2 linked regions of the Homo sapiens genome follow. The protein of the gene in region 1 purifies or fractionates together with the protein of each later gene. This does not show direct contact. Each region holds a gene or a part of one and is shown on either strand. Other genes may lie near its edges.

The links.
Region 2: the proteins of TMIE (region 1) and TRIM3 purify together in Homo sapiens (affinity purification with mass spectrometry; one large-scale study listed by BioGRID and IntAct). This does not show direct contact.

What each region holds. Positions count from the first base shown.
Region 1 is NC_000003.12:46,704,283-46,708,091, forward strand, and holds part of TMIE (transmembrane inner ear expressed protein isoform 1 precursor), read left to right. Parts: intron 1-1,507; coding exon 1,508-1,625; intron 1,626-3,809. UniProt on the Homo sapiens protein: Auxiliary subunit of the mechanotransducer (MET) non-specific cation channel complex located at the tips of stereocilia of cochlear hair cells and that mediates sensory transduction in the auditory system.
Region 2 is NC_000011.10:6,460,292-6,464,103, reverse strand, and holds part of TRIM3 (tripartite motif-containing protein 3), read left to right. Parts: intron 1-3,812.

The sequences.
Region 1 (3,809 bases):
GACCATGTCCCTAGACACCCAGGGCAGGACCATGTCCCTAGACACCCAGGGCAGGAACATGTCCCCTAGACACCCAAGGTGGACCATGTCCCTAGACACTCAGGGTGGACTATGTCCCCTAGAGACCCAGGGTGGACCATGTCGCCTAGACACCCAGGGCAGGACCATGTCCCCTAGACACCCAGGGCAGGACCATGTCCCTAGATGCCCAGGGCAGGACCGTGTCCCCTAGACGCCCAGGGCAGGACCGTGTCCCCTAGACGCCCAGGGCAGGACCATGTCCCCTAGACGCCCAGGGCAGGATCATGTCCCTAGACACCCAGGGTGGACCATGTCCCCTAGACACCCAGGGTGGACCATGTCCCCTAGACACCCAGGGCCAGGGTCATGTCCCTAGACACCCAGGGTGAAGCACGTCCACTAGACACCCAGGGTGGACCATGTCCCCTAGACACCCAGGGCAGGACCATGTCCCCTAGACACCCAGGGCCAGGGTCATGTCCCTAGACACCCAGGGTGAAGCATGTCCCCTAGACACCCAGGGTGGACCATGTCCCCTAGACACCCAGGGTGGACCATGTCCCCTAGACACCCAGGGCCAGGGTCATGTCCCTAGACAGCCAGGAGCAGGGTTGTCTCCCCTCAGACCTGGGCAGAACTATGTCCCCTAGACACCCAGGAGAAGGGCTGTGTCCTCTCAGACCTGGGGCTGGGCCATGTCCCTTAGATATCCAGGATGAGGCCATGTCCTCTCAGAACTGGGGCAGGACTGTGTCCTCTAGACCCTGGGGCAGTGTCCTATCCCCTCAGTCCCCCAGGGCAGGGTCATGTCCACCTGGAAAGTGGGAGTGTCTGGCTGTGCTCTATTCAGGCTTGCTACAGCCGCACTTCTGCCTTTTGGCCTCCAGGTGTCGCCACAGCACTGCAGACCTTTTATTTATCCAGTGCCTGTCCTGTGGACACTCTGGGAGAGTCTTCTGTTCAGAGTGACTCCTAGTAGGGTAGGCGACCAAAGGAGGCCACCTGGCAGGGGTCCAGGCCAGCTGGCAGAACTATGTGGCCCAGACTCCTAGCTCCACACCCCACCCTCACTGGGGAGATGTGAGAGCAAAGCCAGTTAGCCAGCACCCCCCAGGCCTCGCCTTGTCTCTGGCCTTGGTCCTGAGACCCCATCTGCCTGGGTGGAGCCCAGGACTGGAGTAGGAGGGTGTGTTCATAGGGGCCTTGAACCTGGCCAGGACAAGCCATCCACATTTGCTCCTCCAGGCCTTGGTTTCCCCAAGCATCAACCACCCTCCCACTTCAAGTACCTGGCTCTGCTCAGTTCTCTTGCTCTAAATCTGGAACTTTCCAAGGTCTAGGGTGTTGGTAGTGCATGCTTAAGAGAGTTGATTCTAGGAGATTCTGATATGCTTGGGCTGAGTGTTTGCTGAGACCTGGGCCCTTCTCAGCTGGTTCCAGCCAGCTGGCCTCTGCCTAACTCACTCCCCTCTCTCCTGACCCACAGCCCAGCACGGCCCCACCCAAGCCCAAGCCGCCTCCGCTGACCAAGGAGACAGTGGTGTTCTGGGACATGCGCCTGTGGCACGTGGTGGGCATCTTTTCGCTCTTCGTGTTGTCCATCAGTGAGTAGCTGTTCCCTTCCCTCTCCACCACACTGCAGTGGGAACACAGCACCCCCTGCCCCCCAGAGGGCTCAGAGCAGCAATTCCGGGCAGTGCAAGTAGGCCAGGCACCCGCAGGAGACCCGCGGTGGTTTCTGGCACCTCCTGATCCACACAAACTCCCCGTGGAGGGCTGACAGGCCGGTGGTGACCTGAAGTATTCTGCAGGACCCAGGGAGGTAGCCACATGGCAATTATGGTAATTACAGGGAACTCCACTGAACCAAGGACTGGGACGAGGACGTGTCATTTTTCCCTATGGCTGGCCTCCTGATGCTTTTCCTGCAGTTTGGCCAGCTTAAAGGCCCACACCCAGGGGCCCCAGCAAGGCCATCCTCCACTAGAGGCTCCCCAGACACCCAGCAGATGTGGCTCCCAGGCTTCAATCCCTGCCTTGTCAAATACCATTTTCCGGGAGTGACTCACACCCGCCTCAATTAAAAGCAGGAAACCCATTCCTCTCCTGGGCTCTGGGAGCTTCTTGATGCAAAGTCGCAGCAGAAATGGGCTTGGCCGGCTCCCCTTAGCCCTCCCCTCAGAATGGAGGTCTGGAGTTGGGGAAGGGGACAGAAAGGCACAGGAGACAGAGGCCAAGTGGGGAGGCTGCCATGGCACAAAGCAGTCTGACAGAGGTTCCCACGAGGCAAAAGCAGAGTGGGGGGGAATGTAGGAGGTAAAGGGAGAAGCAGCCCACTCCCCTGCAAAGGCATCACAGAGGAGGGTCCTCTGAGGAGGAGGGTCCTCTGAGCTGCAGACCGGTGGGAGGGTAGGTGGGGTTTTGCAGGAGGGAAGGCTGGAAAGGCATTCCGGGAGAGGGGATGTGAGCAGAGGCTGGAGGAAATGCAGCCTCACGCAGGGTCTCAGATGAACCCAACTGGACATTTGCTGAGTGCACCCTGGGTGGGGAGGCAAAAGCTGCACTTCGTCCCAGCCGGAGCTGTCCCGGGATGAGGTGCCCCAGAGAGCTGGGTGGCCCACAGAGAGCCCACCCAGATGTGAGGGGCTCCAAGGAAGACGTGACATCTGATTTGCACGTGCTTCTCCTGGCACCAGAAGTGCTGTCCCAAGAGAAAATATCTGCCCTGCAGAAAATCCCCGCCCCCCATCTGAGCAAGAGCCTGTGCTTTGTTCCCAGCCGAGGCTGAGAACCAGTCAGGCATCTTTGTGGAGGCCCCACAGACAGATAGGTGTGCCTGCAGCCTCAGCCAGGTGTCCAGAGAGGGAAACAGCCCGCTGCAGGGCTCGGGGGTCATCTGCCCTACAGGAGCCACAGGCACAGCCTAGGATGCAGGTCTACGGAGCAGCAGGGAGAGCACTGTGGGCCTCAAGACACAACAAAGGTGCCTGGGGCCACATGAGAAAATTGCAGTGTCAGACCCCAAGCGGCACTTGGACATCAACCACACAGACCATCTCTAACCCCATTTCCTAGAAAGGGTAAAGGATAGTCCCAAGACACCTGAGCAGCAGGCAGCACTTGTTACCTTCCATTGCCGGATCTAGGCAGTGGGGGCAACACAGCTCCCTCTCCTGGGGGGAAACATTTTTCCTGCTTCCCAGTCTGCCTGGGCTGTTATTGGAGCATCACCCCCAAAGCCCTGCAGGAAAAGGGGCTGGGGCTAGATGGGGTGCCCCTGGAGGTCTCCTCCAGCCCCAGGGACTTATATCCCAAGCCCCTGCCTGGGCCCTGGAACTTGACCCAAAGCTCTTTGCATCTCCCCTTCTTTGAAGAGAAGCAAACAGGCCAGGCTGTGCGGGGCAGGCCTGAAGTGAGGGGTGGTGTTTGAGCCCGGCTCTGGCTGCCGTCAGTGGCCCACTGAGCTCCTTAGGAAGCCCCAGCCTCCCGGGGCCTGGGACCAGCCTGCATGGAGCCTGAGTGGGCATAGTCCCAAGGAGGTTCCTGGTGGGGTGGCTAGAAGAGGTGGCCTAAGCCGGGAGGGTTAGGATTGGGTACCAACTTCGAGTCTCAGGCATGAACACAGGTTCTGGAGAAATCCAGGACCCAGCTTCTTGGATAAGGCCTGCTGTCTGCTCAGGTCCACCCCTGGACAGTCGGATCTATAGCTGGGGCCCTTGTGCAGCACCCTCCTCCAAGTGTATGCCTGGATGCTATTGGCTCCCCAATTCATTCACTCTAGTCCAGTC
Region 2 (3,812 bases), on another chromosome or scaffold:
TGACAATATTCTCTTGGGCCCTTATCTCTCATTGTTCTGTCTTGGGTGGCCTGGTCCCTAGGTCTTCTCACCACCACTGCCTCTATCCGCACTTTTCCTCTGCCTTCTGCCCCAACGGAAACCTGGCTCTGCACCAGAGATACTGCTTCCCTGCCAGCCCTGCTCTTTGAGATTCCAGCTCCACTGCCCACTCTCCTTTATCAACTGGAAATGGCCTCAGTTTTCCTGTCCATTCAAGTTCTTCTGTCAGCCTGGGGACAACCACCCTCTTGTGCCTGTTGGTTCTTAACTGTTTCTTCAGGGTTGTCCCCCATTCCACCTCAGTAACACTCCCTCCCAACCATGCCCTGAATCTTATAATCCAGAATCTTATCTGTAGTCATAAACGCCAACGTTCCACTCCTGGCTCCCGTTACCCCACTCCCATTACACCACTTTCGATACAATATAGATATCTAGCCCCTTTGACTGCTCCCTCTTTTCCCAGTCACCAGCTGCGTCCTGGCCTCCCTGTCTTTCCTGCCCATCCTGGACCCTGTGGCTGACCGACTGGCTCCCCTGCAGTTCCTTCACATCTTTATCCTTTGCAAAACCCATGCAATAGAAGCTCAATGTTGGATCAGAGCTGAAATTGGATGTCTCTGCACTTTCTCCTGTGCCCAGATCACTGAGCACTCCTGGAGAAAATCTGGCTGAGAAATTGTAATAACAGTAGCTACCATGTATTGATTGCTTACTGTTTGCCAGGGACTGGCTAAGTGATTTATACATACTGATTTCCTTAATCCCTGCAACAGATACTTTATTAACTTCATTTTATTTTTTTATTTTAATTTTTTAATGTAACTTTTCATTTTAATTTTTTTTGGTTTGTTTTTTGTTTTTGTTTTTGTTTTTTTGAGACAGAGTCTCTCTCTGTCACCCAGGCTGGAGTGCAGTGGCGCCATCTTGGCTCACTGCAATCTCTGCCTCCTGGGTTCAAGTGATTCTCCTGCCTCAGCCTCCCAAGTAGCTGGGACTACAGGCGCACGCCACCACATCCGGTTAATTTTTGCATTTTTAGTAGAGATGGGGTTTCACCATGTTGGCCAGGCTGGTCTCGAACTCCTGACCTTGTGATCTGCCCGCCTCAGCCTCCCAAAGTTCTGGGATTCCAGGCGTGAGTCACCGTGCCCAGCTTGTTTCAATTTTTTAAATTTTATTTTTTTTTTAGAGATGAGTGTCTTGCTATATTGCCCAAACTGGACTTGAACTCCTGGGCTCAAGTGATCCTCCTGCCTCAGCCTCCTGAGTAGCTGGGATTACAGGTGCAGGCTACCACACCCAGGTATCCCCATATTAGAGAGGAGGAAACTAAGGTTCAAAGTCAGTAAATAATTAAGAAATATCTCTGGCCAGGTGCAGTTGCTCATGCCTGTAATCCCAGCACTTTGGGAGGCCAAGGTGGGAGGATCACTTGAGCCTAGGAGTTCCAGAGTAGCTTGGGAAACAACATAGTGAGATGCAGTCTCTAAAAAAGAATTTAAAAATTAGCTGGGTGTGGTGGCATGCACCTGTAGTTCTAGCTAATCGGGAGGCTGAGGTGGGAGGATCATTTGAGCCTGGGAGGTGGAGGCTGCAGTGAGCCATGATCACATCACTGCACTCTAGCCTGGGTGACAGAGAGAGGCTCTATCTTAAATTAAATAAACAAATAAAAAAAAAGAAATATTTCCAAGGCTACACAGTAAGTAAATAGCTGAGATCTGAATCCAGTTTTCACTGCAGAGCCTTCACTGTCAACTAGTATTCATTCATGTATCCCTTGGTCCCTGCTCTCAGAGGATGTTCTAGTGGGCAGTGACTGACAGTAAGCAATCAAGAAAACGAGAGCTGCAGCTTGTATTAATGTTTTACAGGATATAAACAGAGAGAAGTAGGGGTGTTTGGGGCAAGAACTATTCTATATAGTCATCAAGGAAGGCTTCCCTGAGGAGGTGACATTTGACCTGAGTTCTGAGGATAAGAAGGAGACAGATTGTTCCAGGCAATAGAAAAATCTGTGCAAAGGCCTTGAGGAAGAAGTAGACAGGACATGTTCAGATACCAGAAAAGAAACCAGTGTGGCCAAGTGAGGAGTAAAGTGGGATGAGGTGAAATTGGAGAGAATAAGGGCAGTTTAAGGGGGAGCTTGTAGGTTTTCAGAAAGTGTTTGGATTTTATTTTAAGTGCAATGGGAAACCATTGGAGTTTTTAAAAATATATATATACAGGGAAATAATGTAATGTAAAAAGTTCACCCTAGCTGTTATGGAGAGAATGGATTATAAAGGAGCAAGAGTGGAAACAGAGACCAGTTAGGAAGCTATCGTGAGCCAGGTACACTTGACAAATAGGAAGGGGATATTGCTGAATTAGAAGGTGTTTTGCATGGGGAAACACTAGATTCAGTGAGCTTGGAAGAAAGCTGCTGAAGAATAGAGTAGAATGGTTGAAATGCAGTGATAGTTGATGAGAAGTGGGTGTTAGTGGGAGCATGGGAAATGGGGGAAAAGATCACTGGGGGTGAGAAGGTCAAGGAATTAAGAAATCACAATGGGGGATGGATGTTAGTGCCACTGAGAATGATGGCAGAGTGGTGCGGGGGGTAATGGAAGAAGAGAGTGAGCCAAGAGAAAGATGTCCACAATTGGAAGTGGGGGCAACCATTAGGTTAGCAGAGACAACAATAAGGAGGAGTGATAGAGATAGAAGGCATGAGCTTCAAAGGAGCTAGAGTTGAATAGTTCAGAAATGTTCCAGTTGGGAAGAGGGAGGGCTCAAGCCCACCTTCTGGCCCTAAGGAGTGTGGAGTATGAGACAGAAACCACTCTACTTGAGAGGACTGCAAGGAAAAGTAAGTCACAATTAAATAAGTTACACTGGGCATGGTGGCTCATGCCTGTAATCCCAGCACTTTGGGAGGCCGAGACGGGCAGATCACCTGAGGTCAGGAGTTTGAGACCAGCCTGGCCAACATGACAAAACCCCATCTCTACTAAAAATACAAAAATTAGCCAGGCGTGATGGTGTGAGCCTATAATCCCAGCTGCTCGGGAGGCTGAGGCAAGAGAATCGCTTGAACCCGGGAGGTGGAGGTTGCAGTGAGCCAAGATTGTGCTACTGCACTCACACCTGGGTGACAGAGCAGGACTCCGTCTCAAAAAAAAAAAAAAAAAAAAAAAAAGCCACCAAAAAAACAAAAACAAAGAAAACACAATTAAATAAGTTAATACTTGTGAAGCACTTAGAATCATGCCTGGCACATAGTGTTTGTCAGATTTTAATTAAGATCCTAAGTTATAGGAAACATTAAGAGTTGAGATTGAGGATATGGGAGAGTTTGCATAATGCAGATCTTCACTCCACAAATTTGAGGTCCCCAAATACAGCTGCCTTCAGTTCTGATGTCTGTTTCTAGTAAGTGTCCTCTGCTCTCCCATCACTGACTAATCTGAGCCATCATCAGGCCCCTGAATCCTCCATCCTTCACTCTCCTATGTCCCTAGTGCCTCTCTATATCCTCCTCTCCTTTCCTCCTTCCCTCCATTCAGAGACTGACGTCCAGTCCTCCTCTTCAGGCCAATCCGAGGCACTCCCCAATCCTCAAGATCTTCTCCTCTCAGTTTTGTAGTCTCTTCCCCCTCTCCTTCTCTCCTGACTCCTCCATTCATAAACATGCTCAAAACTCCCATGCCAAACAGGTAAAAACTCTTTCTAGCACCATCCAACCCCTCAACCAGCTCCTCATTGGAACTTTCAAGCTCCCCTTCACTCAACTTCCAGCAGTCAAG